2 linked regions of the Homo sapiens genome follow. The protein of the gene in region 2 interacts with the protein of the main gene of each other region in a pairwise test. Each region holds a gene or a part of one and is shown on either strand. Other genes may lie near its edges.

Evidence for each region.
Region 1: the proteins of ICMT (region 2) and RNF19B interact in binary tests that used the Homo sapiens proteins (3 or more experiments, as listed by UniProt).

Annotation. Positions count from the first base shown.
Region 1 is NC_000001.11:32,961,714-32,969,624, forward strand, and holds the start of RNF19B (E3 ubiquitin-protein ligase RNF19B), read right to left. Parts: upstream 3,097-7,911; 5' UTR 2,973-3,096; coding exon 2,338-2,972; intron 1-2,337.
Region 2 is NC_000001.11:6,225,754-6,233,019, forward strand, and holds part of ICMT (protein-S-isoprenylcysteine O-methyltransferase), read right to left. Parts: intron 6,367-7,266; coding exon 6,149-6,366; intron 1-6,148. UniProt on the Homo sapiens protein: Catalyzes the post-translational methylation of isoprenylated C-terminal cysteine residues.

The sequences.
Region 1 (7,911 bases), about 27 Mb from region 2:
TACTAACATAATACTTGGCTAAAATAAGAAATGGCCTAATTTTTTAATAACTTCCAAATAGTTGAGAGTTGTCACCAAGCTTGAAAATTATTTTCTGTGCATTTTTATTGATGTGAGCAAAGACAGAAACTGACTTTAGAAAAATAAAAAAACAAACAGGGACCTTTTCCAGAAAGATGATCTGCCACATTTCTTAGAACTCAAGGAAACATCTCAGAAAGGAGTTAATGTACTATTCCAAAATTAACTATGCAGTGTTTTGTTTTTTTTTTTTCTTGAGACAGAATCTCGCTCTGTCACCCAGGCTGGAGTATAGTGGCCTGATCTCGGCTCACTGCACCTCTGCCTCACAGGTTCAAGCGATTCTGCCTCAGCCTCCTGGGTAGCTGGGACTACAGGTGTGCACCACCATGCCCGGCTAATTTTTCTATTTTTAGCAGAGACAGGATACCACTATGTTGGCCAGGCTGGTCTTGAGCTCCCGACCTCAGGTGATCCACCCACCTTGGTCTCCCAGAATGCTAGGACTATAGGCGTGAGCCACCGAGCCTGGCCTGTGTTCTCTTAATATTCGTTTGGTTAAGAAAACAGATCAACAGTATCTGTAAAACTTTAATATAAATTAACCTCAGAGGGCCAGTAAGATCACTAGACATAGACAGTTCCATGAACCTAAAAGGTCCTTCCTGATACTTATTAACTGAAAGTGAAAGTGAGCCACCATAAACACCATTCCTTTGACCACAACACTTCAAAGTAATTTAGAAACCCCATCTCAGTGAGGTTAAATAGCACACCCATTTCTAAACAAGTTTGGCAGAATTAAAAACAGAAGTTAACTCTTCTTACTCTCCTAGACACTCTAAGACAGCTCCTTTTGAAAGGAGACAACCAGCAGCATCATGGAGATTTCAAAACCACCTTGATATATAGGCTACAATTAAAAGTCCTTAACTCCTTTGAAGCTAAAGATCACACAACTTTTTACTAGCATTACGTTTACACACTGCAAGGACTCCCCAGCATCTTTTTGTCGCCAAAACATGACACACAAGAATAAAATTATCTGCCCAAGGTCACAGAACAGGTAATGGCTGTCTGACTCCCAACTACTTAAATGAGCCCCTCTTCCTGCGTGCAACCCCTTCATGGGATATACTGACAGTAACAATTAGACTTCTAAAGGCGGGGAGGGCGAGGAAGGTCTCCACTGAATGCTTCAGATAGCAAAATCTGGTGTATTATGTCTCTGCAGATATTGCATATTTTAATTTACTGCCCTTTAAAATTCAGCCTACATGGTGCATTAAAAAGACTGTCATCAAGAACTCAAGATCAAAGGGGTTCAGAAACACAATTTCTCCTATCACACCAACCTCTGGGCATTCTTCTCAGTGCCCCCATTGAGACTCTGGACAAAGAACATATCTGTCTACCCCTCACCCTACCCAAGGCAGCAAGGTAAGAACGACAGAGTGCCTCCCGATAGCGTGGCACAGAACACATAGTGCTCAGGGTACCCGAGAGCCTATTCCCCAGTCACCTCCATCCCAACTTTCAGCGGTGGTTGTCAGGGAGAACACGCCTTCTTCTGCAATGCTAAGTCTGTCCCTAGCCAAGTGGACACACCCCTCCGACGCGCTGCCCCCTCAGAATATTCTCATTCCCTCCTTGGCCAAATATCCCCTCCCCACTCTCATTAAGAGATACTCCCCACCTTGGCCGGGAGCGGTGGCTCACGCCTGTAATCCCAGCACTTTGGGAGGCCGAGGCAGGAGGATCACCTGAGGTCAGGAGTTCGAGACCAGCCTAGCCAACATGGTGAAACCCCATCTCTACTAAAAATACAAAGAAATTAGCCGGGTGTGGTGGCGGGCGCCTGTAATCCCAGCTACTCGGGAGGCTGAGGCAGGAGAATCGCTTGAACCTGAGAGGCGGAGGTTGCAGTGAGCCGAGATCGCGCCATTGCACTCCAGCCTGGGCGGCAGGGCGAGACTCCGTCTCCAAAAAAAAAAAGAAAAAAAAAAAAAGATACTGTCCTCACCTCCGGACAGAGGGCATTCCCCCAACAAAAAAACCGCCTCTCCCTGTCTCCTAACTTGGACAGCTCCCTTCCCCTCACCGAATGCTTAGCAGCCACCTCGAGCCCTGGGGCAGGGGGCGGGGTGTCGGGTGCGTTCACACCACTAGTCTGGGCTTGCCTGATGGTTACCACCCCGCCGAAGCTGCCGCCTTGCGGGTTTCCCTGCTTGGGACACCCACGCGGGGTCCCTGCTGCCCCCAGCCACGCCCCTCGGCTGCAGCCCGCCGCCACCCGCGCCACGCCCCCGCGCTCACCCGCAGTCCGGGGCCGGGCACCAGCGGCAGTCGGGGTCCGAGGCTAGGTAGCGGCGCAGCATGAACTCCTCGTACTTGTGCATAAGCGGCGGGTCGGCGAGCAGCAAGCGGATGTCGTGCGGGTTGAGTCGCTCGCTGCACTCGGGGCAGCTGATGGGCACCCTGCTCTCGCTTATCTCCAGGCGCAGGTAGTGGCGGAGGCAGTCCCGGCACGAGCGGTGCGGACAGCTGAGGAGGCGCGGGGCCCGCTCAGGCGGCAGCCGCACCAGGCACAGCGGACACTCCACCTCCTCCGCGCCCGGGCCACCGCCCTCCGCCGCCTCCTCATCGTCGAACCCAGGCTCCGCCGCCGCCGCCGCGGCCTCCGCCTCGGCCTCGGCGGCCGGCTCGGCGGGCAGCGCCTCGGGCGGCGGGCCCTGGGCCGCGGCAGGGGCCGGGGCGGGCGGCGGCTGCGCAGCCGGGGGCGGCGGCTCGGCCTGCGGCTTGGCCCGGGCGCGGCGGCCGCGGGCCGAGGCAGAGAAGACGCTGTGCAAGGTGAGGCGCCGGCGCCGGCCGCCGCTGCGGCACTTAGGGTCGGGTGCGGCCGCATGTAGCGATGTGGAGCGCGGCGACTCGGAGTCCTTCTCGGAGCCCATGGCCGGCAGAGGCCGAGGAGCCAGGGGCGCCCAGCGCCGCCACAGCTCCCGCCTCAGCGCCCCTCAGCCAGCGCCCGGCCGCCGCCGACGCCGCCACCACCGCCTCAACCGCCCTCCCGGCGATAGAAGCCGAGCGGCAACGACGAAGTGATTATAAAGCCTCCGCCCCGCGCGCCGCTGCCCTGCGCAGGCGCTTCGCTCAAACACCTCACAACCCTTGCGCCCCGGTCTAGGAGTGCGCTGGGCAGGGCCGAGCGGGGTGGGGCCGAGCGAGCTGGGGCGGAGCTCCGCCTCCTGCCGGTCAGGTGGTTCCAGGGCCGCCATGTTGCGGAGACTCTCAGAGATCCTAGCCCGCTGCTCTCCCTGGTCTCCGCCTCCAATTCCATCACCATGACACCCAAGGTGGACTTTTTGGTTTGCCGTTCCTCACAGGTTGATTGCCACTTCCAGTAAATGATGGTTCAGTTACATTATTTATAAAAAGCAGGCAGGGGTTGATCAGATGGTGACTCCCAACTGGTTCACCTTCCAACATTTCTGTTTATTAAGCAGACGGCATAAATTAATAAAGAATATATTCATTCACTGAGCTTCTACAAAGTGCGAGGCATTAGAAAATAAAACAGACAAGGTCCCCTATTGCAAGGGACTTCCAGAATAAAGTCCAAATTTCTTAGTCTAGCATTCAGTGTTCTCTATGTATTTAATAAACCCTATGTATATAATAGTCTATTTCTAGGCTCACTTACCATTCTATCCTCCTGGTATCTTGCTTACTTACCAAACTTGTGGAAGGAGACCCAGCGTTTTCTTGCCTGGCAGTGCCTTTGCCTTTCTTTTTCTAGTTCCCCATTCCTCTGACTGGGGGAGGATCTGGACCCTTAGGCTTCCTAGTGGGAGGCAGGCAAACAGCTTCAACAACAGGAATGTATCAGGATTACATTCAATTGCAAATAACAAAAGAAAAAAATAGCTTACGATTGAAATTTATTTATTTTTTTTCCTGAGACGGTTTTGCTCTGTCACCCAGGTTGGAGTGCAGTGGCGTGATCACAGCTCACTGAAGCCTCAACCTCCCAAGCTTAAGCGATCCTCCCACCCCAACCTCTGGAGTAGCTGGGAGCACAGGTGCGCCACCAGGCCTGCCTATTATTTTTATTTTTTTCATGGAGATGAAATCTCCCTGTGTTGCTCAGGCTGGTCTCGAGCTCCTGGGCTCAAGCGATCCTCCTGCCTTGGCCTCTCAAAGTGCTGGGATTACAGGCATGAGCCGCTGCACCTAGCCAGAAATTTCTCTCTTTCCATGAAATATAAGTCCAAAAGTAGGCAGTTCAGGGCTGTTCAGCCATCCTCAGTATTTGGCTTCCAGTGTTAAGGTCACCTCACTATGGTCCATATTCCAAACAGTGGGAAGGAAAAAGGGAAGAAAGATGCATCCTCTTCCTTTTAAGAAGACTGCCTTGGGGCTGGGCGCGGAGGCTCACGCCTGTAATCCCAGCACTTTGGGAGGCCCAGGCTGGCGGATCACGAGGTCAGGAGATGGAGACCATCCTGGCTAACACAGTGAAATCCCGTCTCTACTAAAAATATAAAAAATTAGCCGGGCGTGGTGGCGGGCGCCTGTAATCCCAGCAACTCGAGAGGCTGAGGCAGGAGAATGGCGTGAACCCAGGAGGCGGAGGTTGCAGTGAGCCGAGATCGCGCCGCTGCACTCCATCCTGGGCGACAGAGCGAGACTCTGTCTCAAAAAAAAAAAAAAAAGAAAAAGAAAAAGAAAGAAAGAAAAAAGGACTGCCTCGAAAGTCCCGCACATTTTTGCCAAAACATACTCACTCACATGGCCATACTCAGCTGCAAGGGAGCCTGGGAAACATTCTCTTAACTGGGTACAATGTGCCCAGCTAACAATGAGTGCTCTGTTATTAATAAGGAATGGTAAGATGGGCCAGGAGCTGTGGCTCGCACCTGTAATTACAACACTTTGGGAGACCTAGGCTGGTGAATCTCTTAAGCCCAGGAGTTTGAGACCAGCTTGAGCAACATGGCAAAACCCCATCTCTACAAAAAATACAAAAATTATCTGGGTGTGATGGAGTGTGCCTGTAGTCCCCGCTACTTGGGAGACTGAGGTGGGAGGAATGCTTGAGCCTGGGAGGTTGAGACTGCAGTGAGCCGTGATTATGCCACTGCACTCCAGCCTGGGTGACACAAAAAGACATCGTCTCAAAAGGTGGAAACCAGCTGTGATATTTTAAACCAGGTCTCCAGAACTTCAAACTTTTGACATAAAACAAGAAGGGGAGCCAACAAAGAAAACTGAAAAGCGGGGGCCAGTGACATAAAAGAAAAACTAAGCAGGCATGATGTCACAGACACCAACATAGTATGTTCCCAGAAGGGAGTGGTCAATTGTGACAAATGCTGCTGAGAAATCAAGAAAGATAAGAACAGAGATGTGACCACTGGATTTGGCAACACCAAAGAGTCCTAAAGGAGGGGGAGAGTTTAATCCTCAAATAGGAAGGAGGTTTGATGCTGGATGGCTAAAACAACAATTAATGTCTATATTTATCTGGCAGAATAGGCTAGACTTGGCTATGGTAACAAACAAGCCAAATTTCTCAATGGCATAACACACAACAATGGTATATCTTTTCCACTCATGCAACGCTGGCTGTGGGTTAAGGCACTCTCCAGAGTAGCTCTCCTCAACTCTCCTGGGTAACTCAGAGATCCAGACTACTTCTCTCTTGGGCTCCACTATCTCAATGCAAAGCTTTCAGTATTGCCTCAAAAAGAGAGCTGGAGGCCAGGCACGGTGGCTCATGCCTGTAATCCTAGCACTTTGGGAGGCCGAGGCAGGTGGATCACCTGAGGTCAGGAGTTCGAGACCAGCCTGGCCAACATGGTGAAACCCCATCTCTAAAAATACAAAAGTTAGCGGGGTGTGGTGGGGCGCCTGTAATCCCTGCTATTCAGGAGGCTGAGGCAGGAGAATCGCTTGAACCCAGGAGGTAGAGGTTGCAGTGAGCGGAGATTACACCACTGCACTCCAGCCTGGGCGAGAGAGCAAGACTCTGTGTCAAAAACAAACAAACAAACAAAAAAACTGCAAGGGAGGCTGGGAAATGTAGGAAGAAACCATAAGCCATTTAGTAAGCAGTAGTATCATCTCTGCCACAGTTTCCTATAGTCATCTTTGACTCTGTTCTCAGTGCCCAACGTCCTAATCAACTGCAGAGCCCCCTTAGAGGAGGTATATGCTTATGGTGGGAATGGAGGGTAGGAGAGACGGCTGCCTTGTTCCTTGGGTCAGATTGTGCTAAAAGATATGGGGACCCCCAATTCCAGGTAGACCCAGATGCCTTTTAGATGCTTCTCCTTGTGCAGCTGACAGAAACGGCTGTCAGAATCCCAGCTTGCTGGAAGGCTCAACACTACCAAATGTCTGCTTGTCTTGGCTCTGGCTTCCAAACAAATTCAGCCTCAGTTCAAAGCTGCCAGTGCTTTGGGGAAAATAACTTCTCTTAAATGCCACTAGACTTTGCAGTGGCCCCAACTTGATTGTGTTTTCTTCTCTCCTGAGACTATCACCCTTGAATAAAGGGACTAAAGCAATTCCTCCCACGTTTCCTTATGTGTCTCTTCTTGATAGAAACTGAGTAGTGACTCAGAGATGGCATGAGGGAGAAAAAGATTCTCACTCATCTGTACACTCATTCAGTAAAGATTTATTATACTTACTTGTGCTAGCCTCTTTGCTAGCTACCAGGGTCATGGAGATGAAAAACATAATCTACTGGGGGTTACAGACAAGATGGCAGATCACTGAGATACCAAGTGATGAGGACATATACAAAAAAGCTATGACAGACCAACAGAAGGCATGGCAGGCTCTGCTTAGGGTGGTCAGGGATGGCTTTCCTGAGGAGGAGCCCTTTCAGCTGGATCTCAAATGATGAATATGAGTTGACAAAGTCATAAGAAGGGGGAAGGACATTCCAAGCTTGGGGAGCAGGGAGGAAAGGCATAGTGTGTATAAACACAGGATAAGTCTGAGGAAGTATGAGCAGCAGGGTTGACAGGAGAAGAGAATGTTTGAAAGGACATGAGTGAGAAATGAAAATGGAAAGGTTCTGGCCAGGCATGGTGGCTCACGCTGTAATCCCAGCACTTTGGGAGGCTGAGGTGGGCAGATTGCTTGAGGTCGGGAGGTTCGAGACCAGCCTGGCCAACATGCAGAAACCCTGTCTCTACTAAAAATACAAAAATTAGCCAGGCATGGTGGCACTCACCTGTAGTCCCAGCTACTCGGGAAGCCAAGGCACGAGAATCACTTGAACCTGGGAGGCAGAAGTTGCAGTGAGCCAAGATCATGTCACTGTACTGTAAGCCTGGGCCACAGTGTGAGACTGCTTCTCAAAAAAAAAAAAAAAAAAAAAAGAAAAGAAAAGAAACAAAAAAGAAAATGGAAAGGTTCTGTATTATGGCTCCATTGGATGCAAGGACCAGAAGCCTAACTTGAATGAGGCTAGGCCAAAGGAGTGATTTTTGGCTTCTATAACCTTTTGAACCCTTTGTACCACAGCAACTGCACCCAGGAAAGCCCCCAGATCCTGCACTCCATCATTCATCTTTGCTTCTCTGCATGCTAGCTTCTTCTTTTTTTTTTATTGTGGTAAAATATGCATTACATAAAATCTACCATTTTAACCAATTTTAAGTGTACAGTTTGGTAACATTAAATAAATTCATATTGTTGTGCAACCATCACCACCATCCATCTCCAGAACTTTTTCGTTTTACCAACTTGGAATTCCATAGCCATTAAGCATTAACTCCCTCTTCTTCCCACTTTATTTTTTCAGTCTACTTCTCTCTCTTGCTGGAACTGTAGAATCCCTAGCTTATGTGTCCTAGCTTCCTCACCAGAGAGGAG
Region 2 (7,266 bases):
CTCCAGAGACTGAACCCCACCCCCTGAGTCTGGGTTTCCAACCCCAGAAGAGCAGCACTTCGCCCACTTCCCCAGTCTCCTGCCCTCCCCACGCTGTGCCCACTTTGCCTCTTTTTTTTCCCCCGAGACAGATTGTCACTCTGTCACGTGGAGTGCAGTGGCGTGATCATGGCTCACTGCAGCCTTAACTGCTTGGGCTCAAGTGATTCTCCCACCTCAGCCTCCCAAGTAGCTGGGACTAAGGGCACATGCCACCACACCCAGCTAATTTTTGTATTTTTTGTAGAGATGGGGTTTCACAATGTTGCCCAAGCTGGTCTCGAACTCCTGGCCCTTTCTTCCACCTTTAAGAACATCCTGGCCAGGTACGGTGGCTCATGTCTGTTAATTGCAGTACTTTGGGAGGCCAAGGAGGGCAGATCACCTGAGGTCAGGAGCTTGAGACAAGCTTGGCCAACATGGCGAATCCCCGTCTCTACCAAAAATAGAAAAATTAGCTGGGCGTAGTGGTGGGAGCCTGTAATCCCAGCTACTTGGGAGGCTGAGGCAGGAGAATTGCTTGAACCCAGGAGGCAGAGGTTGCAGTGAGCTGAGATCGCCACTGCATACCAGCCTGGGCGACAGAGCGAAACTCCCTCTCAAAAAAAACAAAGAACATCCTTCCCACTGATCTCCAGCCAAACAGTCCTTCAAGGCCAAAAGCATTCCCCAGCTCCTCAGGGAACCACTCACCTACACCTGCCCACTGGTCCCCTGTGGATGTGCATCTTCCCCAACATACATTTTCTGTATGTTTTCTGAATATATATTTTAGGCTCCAATACAGCCACCCGGAGAGCCAGGCTCATGTCCTGACCTCTCACACCTTCTCTTATTGAGCACTTACTATGTTCCCAGCGCCATGCTAAGCCCTTTACAATCATTACCCTGTTCAACTCTCATGGCAAACCTTTGAGGGCACGCTACTATCCCCACTTTGTTTTTTTTAAAATTTTATTATTTTTTAAAGACAGGGTCTCACTATATTGCCCAGGCTGGACTTGAACTCTTGGCCTCAAGCCATCCTCCTGCCTCAGCTTCCAGAGTAGGGGGAACTACAGGCATGTGCCACTATGTCTAGCTGCCCCCACTTTAACATGAGAGGAGAAGGAGGCCAAGCAGTGAATGTCAGAATCAGGACTGGCCCAGTCAGTGACTCCGGGGCCTGTACCCTCACATCTGGCATAGCTTGCTGGGGATACCCTACAGTGGGAGTTCTCTATAGCAGGCTGCAGCCTGTTACTAAGCCATGAAATCATTTAGTACATTATGAACAGTATTGAAATAATAAGATAGAAAACAGGATTTTGTAAACAGTAAGTGTAAGTATTATATCAGGAAAGACATGTTCCTTTCATACACACACAAGTGCTGGAGCACAATGTAAAAAAAATCTATGGGCAAAAAGGTATGGAAAACCCTTTGGTTCTAGTGCACACACATATACAGGAAGCAAGCATTTATGGCAAATTACATTATTCAGTCATAACTAATTTGTTCCCAGGGAAGGTGATTGTTAATGTGGCGGTTTTACATGTTTCAGAAACAAAAATTGTAAATGCTATGTGATCATTTGCCCCACCTATACCGTTAGGGGTCACCAGAGTCACCAAGGACCATGCATTGCTGATGGGATGCCTGAGAGATCTCTGGATTTGCCCAAAGACTTGGAGACTTTTCCCAAACACTTCGTGAATTTTCCAAGATCTATTCACATTCTTTGGCCAAGTTTTTCTAGGACCAAGAGTAAAGAATCAAGAAACAGTTTCAAGAAATAAGGCGGCCAGGCGCGATGGCTCACGCCTGTAATCCCAGCACTTTGGGAGACTGAGGCAAGTGGATCATGAGGTCAGGAGATTGAGATCATCCTGGCTAACACAGTGAAACCCCGTCTCTACTAAAAATACAAAAAATTTAGCCAGGCATGGTGGCGGGCGCCTGTAGTCCCAGCTACTCAGGAGGCTGAGGCAGGAGAATGGCGTGAACCCAGGAGGCGGAGCTTGCAGTGAGCCGAGATTGCGCCACTGCACTCCAGCCTGGGCGACAGAGCGAGACTCTGTCTCAAAAAGAAAAAAAAAAGAAATAAGGCTTTGGGTTGGGCATGGTGGATCATGCCTGTAATCCCAGCATTTTGAGAGGCTGCAGTGAGAGGACTGCTTGAGCCCAGGAGTTCAAAATCTGCCTGGGCAACACTAAGACCCCATCTCTACAAAAAACAAAAAGTTAGCTGGGCATGGTGGTGCACACTTATAGTCCCAGCTACTCAGGAGACAAAAGCAGAAGGTCTGCTGGAACCCAGGAGTTTGAGACTAGCTTGGGCAACACAGCGAGATCTCATCTTTAATACACAAATAAATAATTTTGTTTTCTGTTTTTAAGACAGGGTCTCACTCTGTTGCCCAGACTGGAGTACAGCAGCAATCAAAGCGATCCTCCTGCCTCAGCCTCCTGAGTAGCTGGGACTACAGGTGCACACTACAACTTCCAGATATATTTTTAGTTTTTTCCTCTGGAGAGAAGGGTTCTCACTATGTTGGCCAAGCTGGTTTCTTTTTCTTTTTTTTTTTTGAGATGGAGTCTCGCTCTGTCGCCCAGGCTGGAGTACGGTGGCGCGATCTCGGCTCACTGCAAGCTCCGCCTCCCGGGTTCACGCCATTCTCCTGCCTCAGCCTCCCAAGTAGCTGGGACTACAGATGCGTGCCACCACACCAGGCTAATTGTTTGTATTTTTAGTAGAGATGAGGCTTCACTGTGTTAGCCAGGATGGTCTTGATCTCCTGACCTCATGATCTGCCTGCCTCAGCCTCCCAAAGTGCTGGGATTACAGGCATGAGCCACCATGCCCGGCCAGCCAAGCTGGTTTCTAATTCCTGGCCTCAAGCAATCCTCCTGCTCTGGTCTCCCAAAGCCACTGTGCCTAGCCAAATAGTAATTTTAAAAAAGAAATATGCGGGTTGGATGCAGTGGCTCACGCCTGTAATCCCAGCACTTTGGGAGGCTGAAGCGGGTGGATCATCTGAGGTCAGGAGTTTGAGAACCGCCTGGCCAACACAGTGAAACCCCTACTAAACCTACTAAAAATACAAAAAATTAGCTGGGCGAGGTAGTGCACAACTGTAATCCCAGCTACTCGCGGGGGCTGAGGCAGGAGACTCACTTGAACCCGGGAGGTGGAGGTTGCAGTGAGCCAAGATCGCACCACTGCACTCCAGCCTGGGCGACAAAGTGAGACTCTGTCTCAAAAAAAAAAAAGAAAGAAAAAGAAATACATGTGGTGGCTCACGCCTGTAATCCCAGCACTTTGAGAGGCCGAGGCGGGTAGATCACTCAACCGCAGGAGTTCGAGGCCAGCCTAGGCAACATGGAAAAACCCCGTCTCTACAAAAATACAAAAATTAGCCAGGGGCTGGGCATGGTGGCTCATGTCTGTAATCCCAACGCTTTGGGAGGCCAAGGCAGGCAGATCACCTGAGGTTGGGAGTTCGAGAACAGCCTGACCAACATGGAGAAACCCCGTCTCTACTAAAAATACAAAATTAGCCGGGTATGGTGGCGCATGCCTGTAATCCCAGCTACTCAGGAGGCTGAGGCAGGAGAATCGCTTGAACCCGGGAGGCAGAGGTTGCAGTGAGCTGAGATCACATGATTGCACTCCAGCCTGGGCAACAAGAGTGAAACTCCATCTCAAAAAAATAAATTAATTAAAAAATACAAAAATTAGCCAGGTGTGATGACACACATCTGTAGTTTCAGCTACTTAGAAGGCTGAGGCAGGAGAATCACTCAAACCCGGGAGGCGGAGGTTGCAATGAGCCGAGATTGTGACACCGCACTCCAGCCTGGGCAGATACTTAGGAGACTAAGGTGGGAGGATCACTTGAGCCCAAGAGGTAGAGGCTGCAGTAAACCATGATCATGCCAATGCACTATAGCCTGGGTGAGAGACCCTGCCTCAAAACAAAACAAAAAACCATACATAAATAAAAAAAATACACACACACACACACACACACACACACACACACACACACATAGAGCAGGTGCAGTGGCTCACACCTATAATCCTTACACTTCTTTTTCTTTTTTTCTTTTTGAGACAGATTCTTGCTGTGTCACCCTGGCTGGAGTGCAGTGGCGTGATCTCAGCTCACTGCAACCTCTGCCTCCCAGGTTCAAGCAAATATTGTGCCTCAGTCTCTCGACTAGCTGGAATTATAAGTAAGAACCACCATGCCTGGCCTAATCCCAGCACTTTAGAAGGCCAAGGTAGGAGGATGGCTTGAGCCCAGGAGTTCAAGACCAGCATGGGCAACAAAGGAGGAACCATCTCTTTTTTTTTTGAGACAGAGTCTCACTCCATCACCCAGGCTGGAGTGCAGTGGCACAATCTCAGCTCACTGCAACCTCCACCTCCCAGGTTCAAGCGGTTCTCAGGTCTCAGCCTCCCGAGTAGCTGAGACTATAGGCATGTGCCACCAGGCCCAACTAATTTTTGTATTTTTAATAGAGATGGGGTTTTGCCATGTTGGCTAGGCTTGTCTCAAACTCCTGATGTCAAGTGACCCACCCACTTCAGCCTCTCAAAGTGCTGGGATTACAGGCAACCGTCCAGGAGAACCACCTCTACAAAAAATTTAAAAATTAGCCGGACGTGGTGGCAACACCTGTAATGTATTCCAGCTACTTGGGAGGCTGAGGTAGGAGGATCACTTGAGCTCAGGAGGTCAAGGCTGCAGTGAGCCATGATCAGAACACTGCACTCCAGGCTGGGCAACACAGCAAGATCCTGTCTTTAAAAAAAAAAAAAAAAAAAAAAGCTGGGCACGGTGGCTCATGCCTATAATCCCAGCACTTTGGGAGGCCGAGGCGGGCAGATCATGAGGTCAGGAGATCAAGACCATCCTGGCTAACACAGTCAAACCTCATCTCTACTAAAAATACAAACAATTAGCCGGGTGTGGTGGCGGGCGCCTGTAGTCCCAGCTACTCAGGAGGCTGAAGCAAGAGAATCGCTTGAACCTGGGAGGCAGAGGTTGCAGTGACCTGAGATCATGCCACTGCACTCCAGCCTGGGCAACAGGGCAACAGAGTGAGACTCCATCTCAAAAAGGAAAAAAAAAAAAAAAAGGCCAGGCACTGTAGCTCAAGCCTGTAATCCCAGCACTTTGAGAGGCCCAGGAAGGCAGACTGCTTGAGCTCAGTAGTTCAAGATGGCTCTGGGCAACTCGAGAAACCCTGTCTCTACAAAAAAAATACGAAAAGTAGTCAGGCATGGTGGTTCGTGCCTACAGTTCCAGCTACTTGGGAGGCAGAGGTTGCAGTGAACCAAGATCGCACCACTGCACTCTGGCCTGGTCAACAGAGCAAGACTAGGTCTCAAAAAAAAAAAAGAAAGAAAGAAAAGAAAAGAAACGAAACAAGGCCTTTTCTTCAGCCTGAGACAGAACAAACCTCCATGGCTCACACAGCTCACTAACACATGGCCTCGGCCCCATTAATACCTATTTCTGATGAAAACTAGCCAAGCTGCCACATGAGTGACAGAGGGCACTCCCTTCCCTAAGCCCCATCTCTGTCCTCACCCCCTCTGGGGTGCTTCAGATCTATTAATAGGTTGAAGGGGCAGAGAAAGGGAGAGGCACAATGGCTCATGCCTATAATGCTAGCACTTTGCGAGGCTGAGGTGGGAGGATCACTTAAGGCCAAGAGTTTGAGACCTGCCCAGGCAACACAGTAAGACCCTGTCTCTACCAAAAAAAAAAAAAGAAAAAAGAAAACAAACAAACAGAGGCAGAAACAGGATGAAGGGATACAGCAGGTAGCTAACAGCACCAAGAATCACCAAGGACTTACGCACCCAGGTTCTGGGCACATAGTGAAAAGCATTAAGGACTACATTAGTTCTCTTGACTTTTATTAAATTATCACTTGAAACGCGCCAAGAAGAACATGTACCTATTATTTAAAGGAGACCAACAACCTCATGAATACACTGAAAACCACTAATTGTATATTTTGAAATGGTGACTTTTATGCTACGTGAATATCACGTTTAAAATGTTACTTAAAAAAAAAAAAAAGAAAAGCAGTGTCATATTTAATATTATACCTGAGTTCCAATACTCCAGTAAAACCACCCGACGTAAGAAGGATGCCGAAACCAAGCGTACACTCCACTGGTCACCAGAGTATGTGTATCTGATTTTTCATTCTGTACCACGTGGTTGAAATTGGAGCCAGCTGTAAACATGGCCGCCTTCCTCAGACATTCTCCGAAGACCACCATCAGCAGCCCTGTGACACTGAGCCAGGTAATCTGCTTCAGTTCTGTGGGAGAGAGACATCAACGACACACGGGGAGTGAAAACACTGGCCTGAGCTCCCCTTCGCACTGCTTAAAATTAACCTATTTTCCCGAAGACAGAAACAGAAAATGTGCTGCTGGGCAATCAGCATTTGTCATCACATTAAAATTTCATAAGAAAACACATTCCCCTAAGTTATGCTGTTCATCAATTTACTTTAAAACACCAATAAGCACAATGAAAGCATCATGGTAAAGAGATGCTCTCCTGCTACAGCTGATGGGCTCTCTGGTTCACGACCCCCGGCCACATGCTCAGTCCTTCATCTGGGGACAAGTATAGCTAAGAGAAGCAAAAAAGGGTCCAAGGTTTCCACCCTGAATCCCAGGAGCCACATGTATTTCATTTCATTGGCTGTGAGACATTCAATTTCAGAGTGCATTCCACATACGGAGGCTTTTATTTTTTGAGACGGAGTTTCACTCTCATTGCCCAGGCTGGAGTGCAATGGCACAATCTCAGCTCACTGCAACCTCCATCTCCTGGGTTCAAGCAATTCTCCTGCCTCAGCCTCCCAAGTAGCTAGAATTACAGGCATGCACTACCAGGCCCGGCTAATTTTGTATTTTTCGTAGAGACGGGGTTTTACCATGCTGGTCAGGCTGGTTTCAAACTCCTGACCTCATGTGATCCACCCACCTCGGCCTCCCAAAGTGCTGGGATTAAAGGCGTGAGCCACTGCACCCGACCTTGTTAGTAAACTCTTTTTTTTTTTTTGAGATGGGAGTCTCGCTCTGTCACCCAGGCTGGAGTGCAGTGGCGCGATCACGGCTCACTGCAACCTCCGCCTCCCGGATTCAAGCAGTTCTCCTGCCTCAGCCTCCCGAGTAGCTGGGATTACAGGCATGTGCCACTACGCCTG